2 separate regions of the Homo sapiens genome follow, and region 2 is linked to region 1. Evidence: fine-mapped expression QTL. A gene starts in region 1. The other region holds a variant in brackets. All regions are shown on one strand. Distances are between the middles of the regions.

Region 1 (8,748 bases):
AGGTACCTTCATGGTGTCCCCATGTATGGGACAGAAATAAGCACTCCATGGTAATACAGTCAGATGGATGGGGGGACTGGCCATGCTCTATGAGTTAGTTTAATGGAGTGTAGAAGCCAGCCTCCAAGATGCCCCCAGTGATCCCCATCCCCTGGTATTCACATCCTGTATGACCCTCCCACACTAGTTCAGGGCTGGCCCTGTGTGGGACTTCCAAAGCTATGACACAGAAGCACTGCACTCCCTGTGTCACTCACTGTGGTGGAAGCCAGCTGCCATGTCATGAGGACACTCAAGCAGCTCCATCGGGAGGCCCTATGGAGATGAAATGAGGTCACTGGCCAGCAGCCAGCACCAATTCACCAATCACGTGAGCGACCCACCTTGGACATGGATCCTCAAGCCCCAGTCAAGCTTTCAGCTAACTGCAGCTGTAACTGACATCTGACTACAACTTCAAGAGCTAGTCCAGGCCAGAACTGCCTGGCGAAGTTTCTCCCAAATTCCCGATCCATAGAAACCATGAGAGATATTAAATAACTATTGTTTTAAGACACTCAGTTTTGAGGTGATTTGTTACACAGCCATTATAACTGGAATATCGGATTATGTCGTTCATTCCAGGGGGGCTGTCTCTAGTGCTCTGCTCTAGAACTCAGCCCTAATCTCCGTCCCAGGCAATATTTTTATGAGCAGCCTGAATGAAAACATAGAAGTGGCACACTAGTTAGCTTTGTAGAATGTCTGCTGCTAAGAGGAATGGCAAACACACAGAATAATAGAGTCAGAATCCAAGATGATCTGAAGTAGTAAACTGAATTAGTTAGTGTAATGTTTAAAAGAAGCAAAAATGAAGCCCCACACTTGGATTGGAAAAACCCATTGTACCAGGATAAGCCAAAGGAGATGCTAGGTGGCAGAAGCACTGTGAAAAGGAAGTCTGAGCTGGCTGCAGGCTCCAAATGAGTCATGATGAGGCTGTCATAAAAGCACATAAATGTTGGCTGCATTACCAGAAGCACAGGACCCAGGTTATTGAGGTGAGCTCTCCTCTGGACCCAATCCAAAAGGGAGAAGGGAGAGACTTGAGATCACTGATTCCAAACAGAAAGGTTTATCACGTGGCAGGAGGTCCTGGGACAGGTTAGGGTTGGGGGGATGGAAATGGGCCTGTCTTGTTCACTGCTGAATCCACAGTATTGGGCATGAGCTTCTGTGAAAGCTGAAAGCTGCCTAAATACAAGAACCACGTGAAAAAAATGGATGTGGCCTCAGAAGGGAGTCAAACTCATGGCCACATCCAAGCAGAGTCTGATGTCCTACTTGAGGGAAACATCATGGACAGGACTGACATACTCTATGGAGGGGTGTCCTTAAAGTTCTCCAAGAGCTCTTCCCAGCTCTGAGATTCTCTTATTCTGTGATTTGTGATTGAATGAGTAGAACCTGCTGAATGATGTCAGCACAGTGCTTCTCAAACTTCAGCAGGCATATACAACACGGGAGGGATCTTGTTAAAATGCAGATTGTGAGTCAGTAGGTCTGGGGAACCTGGCATTCTGCATTTTGAATAAGCTTCCAGGTGACACTGCCAGTCTATAGAACATACTCTGAGCAGCAAGAGGTTAGAAATTGCCAGTTTACAGCAGACTGCATCGGGCAGCCTGGAAAAGGCATTAGGCAACTGTAAAGTATTCTAGCAGAAGAGGAGATGACCAGCTTCAGAAATATTACACTGGAACAGAGCTCCTGAGTTGGACAGGAAGAGCCTGTGTATGCCACCAAGGGCCTTCTGACACGCATGTCCTTTGACTCTCTGAATACTGTCTTTAAAGTGTCCAAATGCGTTGCCATTATCCTGGGTTTTTTGTATCCTTTAGGGCTAGGGAGTGTGAATTCATACCAGCCTGTACTCCAATCCCATTCACTACCTTGATGGCCTCTGAGTCTTGGTTTCTTAGTGTGTAAATGGGAATGGCATCCATCTGAGAGGCTGCTGTACCAAGCAGCATCTGACACATAATAGGTGCCCAATATATGTTTCTTAGACTCATTACAAAACCAGATGATCAATAAACATTTGTTCCCTTCAATACAAAGATAAATCGCCTAATTAATATTTGCCCTTGACTTGTTCTTCATTAACCCCACCTGCCCTAGGATGAATGTTGACATGAACCCATTTTACAAATGAGAGCAATTTGTTCTCCCACAAGGCATCAGGTAAACACAGGCATGAGAATCCATGACCTCGTTGGAATTTCAGGGACTGTTTTTTTCCCAGAGGGTCATTTCTCCCTGTTCCAGGCATTGAGGCCAGTAACTATTAAGATTTCATCTCTTTTTTTTTTTTTGAGACGGAGTCTTGCTCTGTCGCCCAGCCTGGAGTGCAGTGGCGCCGTCTCAGCTCACTGCAAGCTCCGCCTCCCGGGTTCACGCCATTCTCCTGCCTCAGCCTCCTGAGTAGCTGGGACTACAGGCGCCCGCCGCCACGCCCGGCTAATTTTTTTGTATTTTTAGTAGAGATGGGGTTTCACCGTGTTAGCCAGGATGGTCTCCATCTCCTGACCTCGTGATCCGCCCGCCTCGGCCTCCCAAAGTGCTGGGATTACAGGCGTGAGCCACTGCGCCCGGCCTCATCTCATTTCTTTATCTGTGAGAGAAGCCACTATCACCCCCTAAGGGGCTTCGGTCACCAGCATTTTGTCTGTGTCCTAAATGCTTCAAGACTTACAGACCTGACTCAATACGCTCAGGTAGAAAAAGGGTGAAATCAAGAATGGCCAACCACTGGAACACTTTAGCCATTGCTCTGAGAGGTGGGTGGATAGAGTGGGCACTATGCTCCCTCCGACGGGGCTTCACTGCCCTGGACAGGGGAGAGACAGGCGGCTCACAGAGCATGTGCTGGGCCAGGGCCAGTCCCGCCCCCAGGCAGAGATGGCCAGTAAAATAACCACATAATTCCAGTGGAGTCGCCCTGGGGAAACCGAGGCACTTCAGTTCCTTTTCATCAAGGAACTGATTAAAGTGTGGTCTATTATCTCTGTAGTGGGGAGTCCCGAAAGATTCCACTTCTTCCTCTTCTTGCCCAATGAGAGGGTCAGGAAGCTTCCACCACCATCCTGACTGTGGCCACCACATCCTGGTGTGAAGCACCACCAGCTTCCTCCACAAGAACTCTGAAGGTCACCAGCCAGCTTGAGTCCTCCGAAGGTGCTGTGGCTCAACCAGCAGCCTGTGTAGCAGAGAGCACAAGACCTGGGACTCGAACTCAGTCCCACCTTCAAGAGGGATCTCCACCACTTTCTGAGCCTCAGTTTTCACATCTTTGGTTAGGGGCAGGTGGGAAGTTGCCATATTTACCTTGTTGGGCTCTTTGGAAAAATTAAATGAAATGTTAATGTATGTTACACAACGGGCTCATAGGAGGGATTCAAAAGCTGCTAGTTCTTTTTCTCCTTTTCCTGAAAACGGTATTAAAGAGTACTGTAGAGACACTGGAGAATTCCTGCTTCATATGAGATGTCCTTGGTCTCTCCCGGGGAATTTGAAGACCCAGAGACTCGCAGCTCCCCGTGAGCCTCCCCGCTGACGCCTTACCTCCCCCTCTCCACCATCCCCTGCCATCCCGGTGTACGCCACCCCCAAAAAAACTTTCAGCCAGCTCCTCGGTGAGGGTCGTTCCAAATCGTGGCCGACAGTAGCGGGCTGCACCCTCCTTAGATCGCGTCGTGGCCAGCCTCAGCTGCAGAACCCCGCCGGGCGCCCGGGAGCCCTGTCCCGCCGCGGCGGCCTCAGAGTCCGGGCACTTGGGGATTCTCTGAGGGTGCAGCCCTCCTGGGCCCCTCCGACTGCGGAGCTGCCGACCGCAATGCAGATGCGGGCCCTCCAGCCCTTCTCGCGCCGCCTTCCTCCCGCCAGCCCCGGAGCTGCCGGGTCCGCGCCGCCCCGGGGAGCGCTCCTCTCCCGCCCTGAGCGCAGGCCGGCTTCCCCATCGGCGCGCCGGTCCGGAGCCAGGGTCCAGCGCGCTCCAGACGCCTCTGCCTTCCCCTCCCCCTGTCGGCCGCCCCTCGGTCCCTGGGGGTGGGGTTTCCCTTTGCGCTCGCCCCCTCCCGCCCCCACCCCTCACGGGCCCTCCCCTCCCCCGCCCGTCCCTATGTATGTGTCACAGCGCGCCATGCCCGCCCGCCCGCCCACCTACCTCCCCGCCGCTCCAGAGGGGGCTCGCAGAGCTGAGGACGCGCGCAGCGCTGCTCAAGGTCTCTCTCTCTCAGCACCCTCGCCGGCCGGCGTCTGACGCGGGTGCCAGGGTCTCCGGGCACCTTTCAGTGTCCATTCCCTCAGCCAGCCAGGACTCCGCAACCCAGCAGTTGCCGCTGCGGCCACAGCCCGAGGGGACCTGCGGACAGGACGCCGGCAGGAGGAGGGGTGCGCAGCGCCCGCGCAGAGCGTCTCCCTCGCTACGCAGCGAGACCCGGGCCTCCCGGCCCCAGGAGCCCCCAGCTGCCTCGCCAGGTGTGTGGGACTGAAGTTCTTGGAGAAGGGAGTCCAACTCTTCAAGGTAACTGTCTCCTTCCCTCCAGAGCGAGGCTCTCCCAGGGCGCCCGGCGAGCCAGGAACGGGACTGAGACTGCACGCCCCGGGGCTGGGGGCTGCACTGCCTTGGTCTCCGCCCTAGAGCTATGTGTGCCGGGGGCGCAGCACATCCACCGGCTGCGTCCGCGGTGGAGTTGAGCAAACTTTTTGGCTGTTGCAGACTCAGTGAATGGGGCAAAGGAACACGTGAGGAGGGGCACTTGTCTCCTAGTCCGCCAGGATGAAGGAACAAGGGAGCCTTTTCTCCAAACACCTAGGTGATTTTAAATCCTAGGGTCTGGAAAGACCCATGGTTGACAGAGTAGCAGCTTCAGAGTCAAGGGAATGTGGGTTCAAATCCCCGAGGTGCTACTTTTGAGCTGGAAGGTGTGCTTCACCTTCCTGAGCCTTGGCCTGCCGTCTGTCAGCTGAGAGGGAAAAGGCCTTCGCGGGGTCTGGAAGAATAAATGAAATCATATGGACACTATGTCAGGGACACAGCGGGTCCTAAGCCGAGGCTAGATAGTCCATCCTTGGCCACTTGGCTTACTCCAGGGACCAGAGTGCCTGAAGAGTCTGCCCAGGGGAGAGTGGCAGAACCTGGGACAGAGCTACTGAACTGCCAGCAGGGGAGAGGAGAGCAGTGCCCTGAACACACGGGTGTCCAACCAAGAAGGGGCATTTCTCAAGGAAGAAAGGGGAGGGGAGTTGAGGACACACGACCACGAGCGGTTTTTCCGTCTGTGGGTTCCTCTTCAAACGAAGCCAATGCTGGTGGAGCAGGAGCCCTTTCCAACCCTGGGGCTGGGTTGGAGGCTGTCAGTATGTCAACTGAACCACACTCTGGGCAGAGCAAGCTGCGGGGGTGGGGGCTTGTCTCTGGTTGTGAGACAGGATCCAACCCAAACTTTTCCATCATTATCCTCCTTTCAGTCATGAGCTGGGTTCTGACAGGATCCTACTAGGGTTTCACCATGAAGAAGCTGGAGTTCCAGCATGTTGACTGATGTGTAAATTCTGGTTCTGTGGGGCTGGCTGCCAGGAGGAAAATACAAAGCTGAATTGGGTTAGCACGGTGTTTTGGGGTCCTGGGTGCTGCAGTGGGTGGGTGTCTGACAGTTTAGAGGGGACTCTGGACCTTGAAAATTCACCCACCTCGTCTGAAGAGGAGGGCAAGTGGACCCAGAAAGGTGCAATGAATTTCTGAAGGTTGAACTGTGACTTAGGGTCAAGGGCAGAACTAGAATCCAGGTTTTCTGAGGCCATAGTCGGTCCCTCGTCCTGATTTAAGAGTCCAGAATTCTTGGGTTCTAATCCTTATCTCTCTTTCTTGTCCTGGGTTGCCATGGACAAGGAGCAATCAGGTTGCTCATGCACCCTGGGCAAGGTGGGTTTGGAGGCACTATGAAGATACGGTTTAGGAGTGTTGGCTTGTCAATCACAGGCTCCAGGGAGAAACTGCAGGAAATGGAAAGGCAATGGGGAAGAAAACCCTGAAGCTCGTTGGGGGAGGAAGCATTGAGCGGCAGTGGGGAGGAGAGGTTCTAACCTGAAAGAAAGATTGCAGAATAGTAGATCTCCCCAGTATAAAAAGTTTCAGAAGAAGGAATTGTCCAAAGGAAGAAGATATCTCTTGGAGAGATGCTGGAATTCCACAGGTTACCTTGAGCTGTGTTTAATTTAGATATTCTTACGTGTAGTTTCTAGTGCTGTGCCTGGTATTTTCATTCATTCTCCAATATCTGCTGAGCGCCACCTAGGTGCCAGGCTCTGTGCTCAATGCTGGCCCACAGCGGGTACTCAATAAACAGCAGATATGAGATGACCCAAGCAAAGGGCTTAGCGTAGTGCCTGGCACTGGGCAAGTACTCAGTAACTGTTTCATATTATTAATATTACTATTATCATTCTTAATTCTAGTAGTAAATGAATGTTTTTCTTTTTCTAGAATATTCACTGACAATCATACTTAAAAGGGAATATTTTGTTTAATGTTCGGAAGCCCTCCACACACCCAGGCACACCTCTTGCCCCTGTTCCCCATCTCTCTCACACCCACACGCCCAATCCCAGGCAGCCACTCACCCCTGCATGCCAAGGCAGAGCGTTCTCCTCCTCTTATGCCCCCTCCCCAATTAGAGAGGGAGCTCCAAGAGAGAGCTCACCTCCTGAGACAGTCGGCAAGAGCCAGGAGGGTGGACAGCCTGCATGCAAGGAAGACTGGGATTCAAATTCCAGCTCAGCCACTCGCTGGCTACATGGCTTTGATAAGGGTACTGAGCCTCCCAGAGGCTTCATTTCCTCTTCTCTAAAAAGGGGAGAAAATCCTCCGATAAGAGATTTTTGTGAAGATTAAAAGACATAAAGTGGGTGCCTTGTCCAGCTCTCAGCAAGCACCACAAACTTTAATTCCTCTCCTCTAACAGCTCCTAAGCCCCCTTGTGGGTCACAAACCCCAAGTTATGGATAGCAAAAATTTCAAATGTTTTCTCTTGATAAGAGACTGTGTGTCCTAACTTTTGGTGTGAATTTTTTTTTTTTTTTTAAGATGGGAGTCTTGCTCTGTTATCCAGGCTAGAGTGCAGTGGCCCAATGTTGGCTCACTGCAACCTCCGCCTCCCAGGTTCAAGTGATTCTTGTGCCTCAGCCTCCCAAGTAGCTGGGGTTACTTGTGTACCACCACGCCCGGCTAATTTTTGTATTTGTAGTACAGACGAGATTTCACCATGTTGGCCAGGCTGGTCTCGAACTTCTGACCTCAGGTGATCGCCTGCCTCAGCCTCCCAAAATGCTAGGATTCAGGCGTGAGCCACCATGCCCAGCCAGTGAATTTCTTTTTAATGATTCCTTCTAGAACTGGGTTCCTCCCAAGACCCTTCTTATTGGGCCCTTAGGAGGACCTCAGCTGAGCCAAAGGAAGCCCATGAGACCCTGCCTAGAGTCCCACTTTGAGTCTGTCTCTGCTGCTGCAGGGATGTCTAGCACCAGATTTGTCCAACTGCAGGTTGTGAGATCAATTTAGCGGGGTTCTTAATAAAATAGGAAATACCAGATAATCTCATAGTGCCTCCTATGTAGCAAAGGTAAGTACTGTTTCTGGAAACTTTTGTTTCTGTTATTTATTTTGAAGCCCTCTATAAGGGTATGTATGTTTATAATATAAATGTATATATGCAAATATATACAAATTTGATATTTGCATATATTTTTATTTAATTTTTTTTTTACTATATTGGTCCCAATGATGTTTCTGTCTCAGAAATTTCAGCATTGTGGCCCTAGGTGGCAGGTGCTGGGGCATCCTTGCTGCCACTGCACCAAGTGCTGGGGAGTCAAGGCAGCTGAGGTGGAAGCTGGAGTTGGGGAAAGGCAAGTTCAAGGAAGAGGACCCAGAGTCAGAGAGGAAGCAGGGCATGGAGGAAGGTCTGCTTATAAGTAGAGCAGGGGAGGGGACAGGCCAGCAGCTGCCCTGGGAAAGGGGATCAGGAGCACATCTTGGGAACAGGAGCCTTCCTCTCCTGCTGTCAACGGCCTGGCCTCGTGGCCATGCTTCGTGTCCTGATGGTAGCCGCACTGCCGCCCTGATAACTTAAAGGAAGCCCCTTCAATGGGATGAAGGGCCCGTTTCTGTGACAGCTACTTTGGGAGTGGCAGCTCCCCTTCCCCCAGATCCAACAGGACACAGCCATCCCTGCGAGGGAGTCTGGGCCCCTGGACGCAGTTGAAGAAGGGCCACTGGGAGGCCGGCAGAACAAGGGGAGGGCTGGAGAAGGAGCGGGAGTGCAGGCGAGAGGAGGACCAGAGAGGGGGAATTTGTAGAGAAAACGGTAAAACGGTTTCTTTTTTCAAAAGTTGAATCCAGGGCAAGAACGGAAACGGTGGAGTTTACTTTTAAAAACTCAGAGCCTCCTTATAAGTGGTGGAGTGTGTGTGTGTGTGTGTGTGTGTGTGTGTGTGTGTGTGCATGCTGGCAGGGCGGGCCCTGCGGGCTGGCCAGGCCTGTGAGAGGTGACTTCTCTCCCTCTCAATGGCCTTACAGTGTATCCTAAAGAAGCTTTTTGTTAAACTCATGAATAGGTGGATTTGGGGTGTGTGATGCTGGGCATCACGATTTGGATATTTGGTTACCTTTGAGGTTACATGTTTTTCCTCTTAAGATACACACTCAAA
Region 2 (8,748 bases), 23 kb after region 1:
AGGGCCCAACCTTTCTTCGGGCAAAGTTAATCCTTTGCTGCACAGAAGGACTGCTCTGTGAATGCCCTGAAATCATACAGAAAATCCCAGGAGCGTGAACACTATTTCCTAAGAACTGTGTCCATAGCTTCCATCAGCTCTCAAAGAGAACCATGATCCAAGGAGCTAACTACATGTTTTTTTTTTTTTTGAGATGGAGTTTCGCTCTTGTTGCCCAGGCTGGAGTGCAATGGCGTGATCTTGGCTCACTGCAACCTCCGCCTCCCAGGTTCAAGCAATTCTCCTGCCTCAGCCACCATGCCTGGCTAATTTTTTGTATTTTTAGTAGAGACGGGGTTTCTCCATGTTGAGGCTAGTCTCGAACTCCTGACCTCAGGTGATCTGCCCGCCTCAGCCTCCCAAAGTGCTGGGATTACAGGCGTGAGCCACCACGCCTGGCCGCTAACTACATGTGTTCTATGAGGTGAGGTCCTTCCCAGACCCTGGAATCAGGGGTTGCAATTAGGGTCCAAATAATGAGGTTGGACTACAGATAACCCATCTCCTTTCTTACCTTTGACTAGATCCAAGGACTAAACTCCAAGAACCCGAGCATCTGTCCCCAAAACTGAAAGGATTGGACTAGTCACCCCTTGTTTCCCTACAGCCACATCCCAGGCACCTGGCCCTTGCTTTGTCCAGAAATTCAGCTATAACTCCACACATCTGATGGCCCTTTCTGGCAAGCAGGCATTTCCATCAGGACCCTCAGCTGCCAGACACATTTACTGGAGGTCACTTATTAAACCTGGGCTCAATTTCCACACAGGGAGGCTACTGAAGCATCACACTGGGTCTCCCAGCCCCTTCTCATAGAGGAAAGATCTCTCTGTCCTGCAGGGTTGGCAGTCAGCGCCAAGTAAAGGGAATTTAGCTCTTGGCCCAAGATCCCTGCCCAGGAAAGGTACTTGCGCCTGCTGGAAACTTTGGGCTGAAGTATACTCCTTTCCAAAAACTCAGGTCTGATATTTACACAAAGTCTGAAATTAATGCAGAGAAAACTTCCAAGTGCTTGGACTGGAGCAGAAGGCTGAGAACAGGAAGGGGCTGGTCCCTGGTACTAGTTTTGGTTTTTTGGTGGTTTTTTTTTTTCTTGTTTTTTCTCACAGAACAGGGCAAAGCTGAGTGTCCCTGGATGAGTGAAGCAGGAGGATTAATCATGCCCAGTGCTTCTCCACTTTAAACTGGTTTTCCTGGGAATTTGCAATTGAGAGTGGGGAGGGGTAAGAATCGTGGGAAAAGGCTGATGGTGTTCAGCCAAATTCATCCTTCACGTGCCCACCCTTCTACAGGCACATGCTTTGGGGCCATCCACGGCTGCAGCCACCCCATCCTTAGGAAGCACCACTGGCCTTCCTTTCCGGTACCTGGACTCAGCATCACTCCCAGCCTCTTGGAGATGCAGCCTTCATTCAGCACACAGCTCAGCTCTGAGTTCTGTTTTTGTCCCTAGATGTCTCTGGGGTCACCTACTACTCCCTGCTTGGTGGCCCAGGCCCATCCTTCTCCACTCTTGCACCTCTTTTAGCAGAAAAGGAGTGAGAATGGATATTTCCATGGGCCGTGTGTGCACTCCCGGCTACCCCTGACAGCTCTACTCAGAGCTACCCTCCCTCCTGGGGCTTCTTATGTGTTCTAAGGCTGAGGCAGGAAGACTGTGAGATCAGGTGACACTCAACAGTTATGATCGGTCTTAAGATTAACAGTCCTGGCCGGGCGCAGTGGCTCACGCCTGTAATCCCAACACTTTGGGAGGCCGAGGCAGGCAGACCACGAGATCAGGAGATCAAGACCATCCTGGCTAACACAGTGAAACCCCGTCTCTACTAAAAATACAAAAAATTAGCCAGGCGTGGTGGCGGGCACCTGTAGTCCCAGCTACTCAGGAGGCTGAGGCAGGAGAATGGCGTGAACCCAGGAGGCGGAGCTTGCAGTAAGCCAAGATTGCGCCACTGCACTCCCGGGTGACAGAGCGAGACTCCGTCTCAAAAAAAAAAACAACAACAACAACAAAAAGATTAACACTCCTTCTACTTCCAAACCTAATACAAAGGGACATTGCCTAGTGATTAAGAGAATTCATTCATTCAACAAATACTTGTTGAGCACCTACTATGTGCCAAGCACTGTTCTAGGCACCGGAAATACAGCAGTGAGAAAAACCAAAAAAACTCCCTGCCCTCATGGGGTGTATATTCAAGTAGCTGAAACAGACAGTGAACAAACAAAAAAGGACAATAATTTCAAATAATAATGATGCTATCGGCCAGGTGTGGTGGCTCATGCCTATAATCCCAGCATTTTGGGAAGCCAAGTCAAGCGGATTACCTGAGGTCAGGAGTTCAAGAACAGCCTGGCCAGCATGGTGAAACCCCATCTCTACTAAAAATACAAAAATTAGCCAGACATGGTGGCACACACCTGTAATCCCAGCTACTTGGGAGGCTGACGCAGGAGAATTGCTTGAGCCCGGGAGGTGGAGGTTGCAGTGAGCCAAGATCTGACAGGCCTTCAGCACCACTGCACTCTAGACTGGCTGACAGAGCGAGACTCTGTCAAAAAAAAAAAAGCTATAAATAGACTTTAACAGGGTAACATGATAGGGAGGGAGGGATAGGGGAGCAGGGTGGTCAAGGAAGGGACATTTAAACAGGCTAGAATGACAATGGCCAGCGAGGGAAAGATCCAGAAGTGTGTGCTGGAAGAAGAAAGAGCAAGCACAAAACCCTTAGGACAAAATCAGCTCGTGTGGTCAAGGCACAGCTAGAATGTGGCGGGGTTGAGGGTTTGGGGAATAGTGATCTGAGCAGGAGCAGGAGCGGATCACATGGGGCCTCACAGGCCCTGGGAAGGAGCTGGATTTTTCTCCAAGAACATTCATCCTTTTCTGCCATGAAGTCCATAGGCCAAGCTCCCTTTTGCTCCCACCCCCTCCAGCAGGATCAGACTACCCAGGGAACACGAGGACTTCTGGTGGGTGACTTGGAAGGAATAAGAGGAAGTTCCAAGTAAGTTGCCACAAGGAATCATCACTCTGTATCTCTTCTCCTAACTGGAAATAAGTAATTTCCAGAGGCCTCACCTATGAAAATTCTGGCCAAAGGTGCCAAGAAACTTCCCCAGATTCACCTAGATAGTACATTATGAGTCAAAGGTATGAATTCAGGTTGTGTTCTTAAGATACCCACCTTCTAGTGTACCATGTTATCTCCCAAGAGGCTTGAGAAGAGGCTATTCAGGAAACTGCATAGAGACTGGGTCCAAAGTGGACCTCAGAGAGAGGATGAAGAACAGCGTATCTCTTGTCCCAACAGGTCCAAGTCAAAGAGGTATTACTAGCAGGGACATAGATCAGTGAGTGAAGGGAATCACGACAGAGAGGCCAGAGAGGGGAGAGATTGATGTCATCTTTTCAAGTATTTCTGTACTACACGTCCTAAACCC[CA/C]GCCTGCTCCTTCCACTTCCTACTGTGCCCACCCCCACCTCCAGAAGCAGGCAGAACCTTCACCTAAAAGCTCACACAGGCCTTCGGCAAACCAAGGCCAGCTCTGTTTTTATTGTTTGACTAGCATCCGCCTGGCTCCTGGTCAGGACAGTGAGGTTGGCCTCGGACTGGCAGTGGCAGAAACAGCTCCGTGGGCTGATTTCTGAAGCTGAAGTTTCGAAGAGGCTTCAAAACACCCCTCTCCCTGTCCCTCTGTGATCAGCAACACAGGAAGCAGCAGGAGTTGGTCAGCTCTTCCAACTGCCAGAGGTACGCGGTCTCTCATGGTAGGATGGGACTTTAGAAAAGGTTAGAGACTCAGCTCACGTCGGGGGGCTCTACTGACTACCCACAGGTTGACTAGTAGGAATCCAGATATTTTTGAGCAGATGATGATCATGCTTTTGTAGGTGCTGGCTGAGACATAGCCCATTTAATCAGAAATGACTTGATTAGAGCTCTTGAAAAAGCTCATCCTGAAAACCCCTGGAGGAAGTTAACAGGACTGTCTGCAGCCCTGCCACGGAGCAGGGCATTTGTATAGTGGCCTTTTTTTTCTTTTTTTTTTTTTTTTTTTGGAGCCCCTGGGAAATTTGCCTGAAGGACACTGTGGAAGAGCCACCATGCTGGGCTGTAGGAGCCAGCTTTGCAGGGGACCCCTGGAGACACAGGGAAAGCCAGGACTCAGAGCCCCAGCAGGGCCCTGCCCTGTGGATGGAAGGTCCAGGAGTGGATCAGGAGTCCCACTTGGGAACCCCCTCCTCCAAAATGGACCCTGTGTTACTCATTGGCAAGATCCCACCAACCGTGCGCATATTCCAGGCACTCTGCCCATATTCCTGGGCAGAACTGGAAGAGATTTGGGTTTCCCTCTCTCGTGAACTAATTAGTGATGCATTTTCCCATCTACCAACCCCTAAAACTTTCCGGATCTGAAATTCCATGAGAACATTCCCCATATCCCCCTTGATTTATATTTGTTACCTAGTATGTTGTCTCCCCCTTGAAATGTGTTTGTTGACTGAATAATGGAATTAATGAGTAAAGCTAATGAGCGTAAAGGGACTGTAAATGCTGAGAAAACCATAGCATTGTAGCCACAGGACCTGGATTCCAAACCAAACTCAGCCACTCACTATCTGTGTGACTTTGGGCACGTTGTCTAACCTCTCTGAGCCATTGTCTTCCTTCCTATGAAGACTGTTCTAAGGATAAGAAACGGCACATGTACAGCTCAGAGAGGAGTTCCTGACATACAGCAGGCCCTTCCTAAAGATGGCCCCTAGATTGTTCCTGAAGCCATGGCATAAGTGGATTCTGGCTATAAAATGCCCACTGTTGCCTGAAGATAGAGAGGGGGTGACTGCCCTCCCTGACCACAGAGAAGCTCCAAGAGCTCTGTGGCAAGCCGTGGAGACGGCAGTGGCAGATTAGGCTCTTCCTTTACAGTCCACAGTTTTATTTGAACTCACATCCTAGTCCTGGGGTGAATAGAGGAATGATCCCTAGGCTAAAATAGTTGGTGGGGTGGGGGGCCCCATTGTTTGCTGTCACTGCAGAACAAATGACCATTCACTTACAGCATCATTTAAATTAGATACAGATGCAAATTGTATGTGGGTGGTGTTTCTTATCAGGCTAGCACCCATTAGTTGGGTGGCTACTTTGTGCAGAAACTGACCTCAGTGCCCCATTCACTTGGACCATCATTTAAATTCGATATAGATGCAAATTGCATGTGAGTGGCACTTTTTATCAGGCTAGCACCCATTAGTTGGGTGGCTACTTTGTGCAGAAACTGACCTCAGTGCCCATAGTAGGTGCTTGGTGTATCCATATTAGTTGAAATGCAGTGAGGGGCATACACAATGCAGGTGTTCTTGCTCCTCAGTGAGGGAGGAACCAGCCAGACAAACCTTGAGAAAGGAGGCCAACTCAGCATCTCTCATTTAAGTCCTACAGCGTCCTATGCTATTTGATAGATCCTATCTAATCAGCACTTTAGAGGTAAGGAAATTGAGCCTCGAGAGGTTAAATAATTGAGCCAAGGTCATATGCTCACAGGAAAGTGTCAGAGCTGCGATTCAGCCACATCTGTCTGACTCCCAATCATGCTCTTTCTGTTGCACCAGGGCCTGCTCCCACCCTGGCCATCGCACCCACCCATGCACACATCCCTTAAGTGGTTGGCCTAGTAGTTTGAAACAAAAGTGGGAAAGAAGCCACAAGCCAAGATGAGTCTGCTAATAAGTTGGTCATAACAACAAGAAATGACAAAGGACACAGGCAGACAGGAGAGCGTTTCAGGCTGGGGGAGGTTTCCAGGCGGTGGCATTTGCATGGGGCCTCAAGGAAGGTGGGAATAGGTCAGACATAGAGCTAAAGAGAGGGTGTTTTTTGAAGGAATGGAACTGTGTGAGCAAAAGAAGGGAGTGAAAGGACAGGGCCAGACCCTAGCCCCAGATTCAAATAGGGCACTGCCAGGGGATAAGACCCATGCCACATCGGCAGTCAGGTAACAAGTATAACCTGCAGGTATGACACTCTCCGTGGTGTCATTTCTCGGTTTCTTATTTTCTTTTCTCGCAGCTCCACTACCCGAGCCTTTTTTTTTGCTCCCCAGAGAGCCTCCCCTCACTTCTGTTAGATGTGTGCACCACCCTCCCAACCTCACAACTCTCCTTTCTGCCTTTTCGTCCCTAGCACAGTGAGGGCATGGGGGCATCTTTCTGAATAGGCTGGACCTTCCCAGAGAATGTGCTCAATAGGCAAGCGAAACCCTTGTGCATTGCCCTGGATGTTGCAGCAGAACAGCAAGCAATGAGCAGGTCCCTGGCCATGAGGGAGGCTGAGAGGGTGGAGATGCAGTTCCTTCTGTTCCCAGAAGTTAAAAAGGTGGAACTCTTCTCTGCACTGCGTGGAGCTGGCATTTGGAATCTCAGGGAACTCCAGAGTTAATTCTCCCACCTGCCCCCATTTCAGAGATGGAAAATCCGAGGCTCCGGGTCAGGCAGCCATTTTAGTCAGGGCCAAGGTTAGGACCCAGAGCCGACTCACTCATGTCTGCTATCTCTGGATACAGGTTTGTCTGCACTCACTAGGCTAGAAGCAACTCCAAGGAAAAACCTTTCTTTCCCTTCACTGGGCCCCTCTGTCTTAGCACAGAGCTGCTCAAGGCCAATCCTAGACAAAAGTATGGCCTTGAAGGGTTTATCTCCAGCACTCCCCACCCTGCTGCCAACTGTCTGTTTCACAGGACCTACACACTTGCCCGGAATGGAGAAAAACACATGGAATTTGATTTAAGATGCTTCAGTGATGACAGAGCAAGTAACAAATTTGGAAAAAGGAAATCAAAGATACGGAAAAAGACAAGGTGTTGAAGAAGGTGGGGAGAAGAGAAAGAGGAGGAAATATCAAAAGAGTATTGGCAGCTACAAAAATTACCTTCACAATTTCCCTGGGGGTGATGCTTGCATGATGATCCCAATTTACAGAAGGGAAAACTGTAAACTGAGGCCTTACATGAGTTTCCTGGTGAGTTAGGACAGAGCTGGGACTGAAATCAGCTTCCTGGCTTCCCGTTTCTATACCATCCCACCACGTCTGTTTAGAATATGTGGGAAGTTAACAGCTGCAGTTGGGGTGACTCTGGCCAGATATGCTCTTGGTGTAGGGTCCCTGGCCTTTTCCCTATGCTGGGTTTGAAATCCCAGCCTCGAGTGCATATGCTACTGCGTTTATGCACAGCTATCAGGATGATCTTGTTCATGAGCGAGTGACAAGAGAAAAGGTGCTATTGGGAGATTAGGCTGCAAATAAGTGATGTGCTGGTGACTGGTGACTACAGGAATGGGGCACCTTGGTCCTTTCGAATCCATCTTCTAGGACTTAAGTCAGGGACACAGAGCCACCTGGTCGCAGGCAAATCTTACTGGTCTACCAGTCTACCAAACCCCAACGTCTACTTACTCATCTAACAAGGAGGTGTCAAATACCATTTTGTGTTATTCCTGGTACTGTGTGAGTTAGCATAAAGGGATTTTGTTTTCATTTAAGACTTGATTTTCAAACTCTAGGAGGTCACAGTCTGCGTGATGAGACAGAGTTAGCACACATAAAACAACAGAAGAAAAATTGGGTGCTAAACAGTGTGTAGAAAGTCATAGCTGGGGGGAATACAACCCAGGGCCAAGGCCTGGTGAGGTTTCAGGGAGGAGGCCTGCAGGATCTGGGAGAGGAGGGTGGGCGTTCACGTAGCCAGCAAACATTTGCTGAGTCTACACTGATGTGGACTCACGCTGGGCCAGGGGAGGTGACATGGAGATGAACATTTCCTGACCATACCCTAGGGCTGGCAAACTGGCCTTGGTTTTAGGGCCAGCCTCAATGTCCCCAGGGACACATGGAGGACAGCACAATGAATGGAGAATGAGGCTTCATTCAAAGGAAAGAAAAGTGCTCATTATCCTTCCCCAGCCCGTTTCTTTATTTACTATTATAGTCATGCAACATTTAACAGGGATGCGTTCTGAGAAATGCATTCTTAGGCAATTTTGTCATCCAGCAACATGTGCAGTGGAGACCCCTCCACTAAAGTGTACTTACACAAACCTGGATGGTACAGCCTACTACACTCCTAGGCCATATGGTATAACCTAGTGCTCCTAGGTGACACACCCATACAGCATGTTACTGTACTGAATACTGTATTTTTACTGTACCTTTTGTATGTGTAGATAGGTTTAGATACACAAATACTTGCCTTTGTGTATACACAAATACTTCCCTCTGTGTATCTAAACCTATCTAAACCTATAAAAGATACAGTAAAAATCCTGTATAAAAGATAAACAATGGTACACCTATAGGGCATTTACCATGAACAGAGCTTGCAGGACTGGAAGTTGCTCTGGATGGGTGAGTGACTGAGTGGTGAGTGAATGCGAAGGCCTAGTGCATTATTGTACACTGGTGTAGGCTTTATAGACACTGTACACTTAGGCTACACTAAATTTGTAAAAATAAATAAAGTAATTGCACTATGACGCTACAACGGCTGCAGCATCACCAGGTGATCACCAGGTGATCGGCGTTTGTCAGCCCCATTAGAATCTTACAGGACCATCATCGTAGGTACAGTTTGTTGTTGACTGAAATGTTATGTGGCCCATGGCTGTAGTTACGTCCAGTAGTATGCTGGTAAATCCACTCTCAAAAAGGAA

Direction of the effects. Alleles are on the strand shown, and positions count from the first base shown. SD is a standard deviation of normalised expression in the study named.
For the expression in spleen of the gene that starts at base 4,191 in region 1, allele C in region 2 goes with a higher level than allele CA (moderate effect, 0.52 SD a copy in GTEx).

Evidence for each region. PIP is the estimated chance that this variant, and not a neighbour inherited with it, causes the effect.
Region 2: its variant is fine-mapped to the expression of ACAN in spleen (GTEx, PIP above 0.99).

The regions. Positions count from the first base shown.
Region 1 is chr15:88,799,246-88,807,993 of GRCh38, forward strand. It overlaps ACAN (aggrecan), which reads left to right and starts at 4,191. Exons shown (of 19, transcript NM_001369268.1): 1 at 4,191-4,564. It overlaps LOC105370960 (a long non-coding RNA gene), which reads right to left and starts at 4,273. Exons shown (of 3, transcript XR_001751648.1): 1 at 4,205-4,273.
Region 2 is chr15:88,822,294-88,831,041 of GRCh38, forward strand. The region is part of intron 1 of ACAN (aggrecan); the gene reads left to right. Among named protein-coding and RNA genes, the nearest start is that of ACAN, 23 kb to the left of the region's middle. The variant CA/C (reference allele first, on the strand shown) is at 3,484.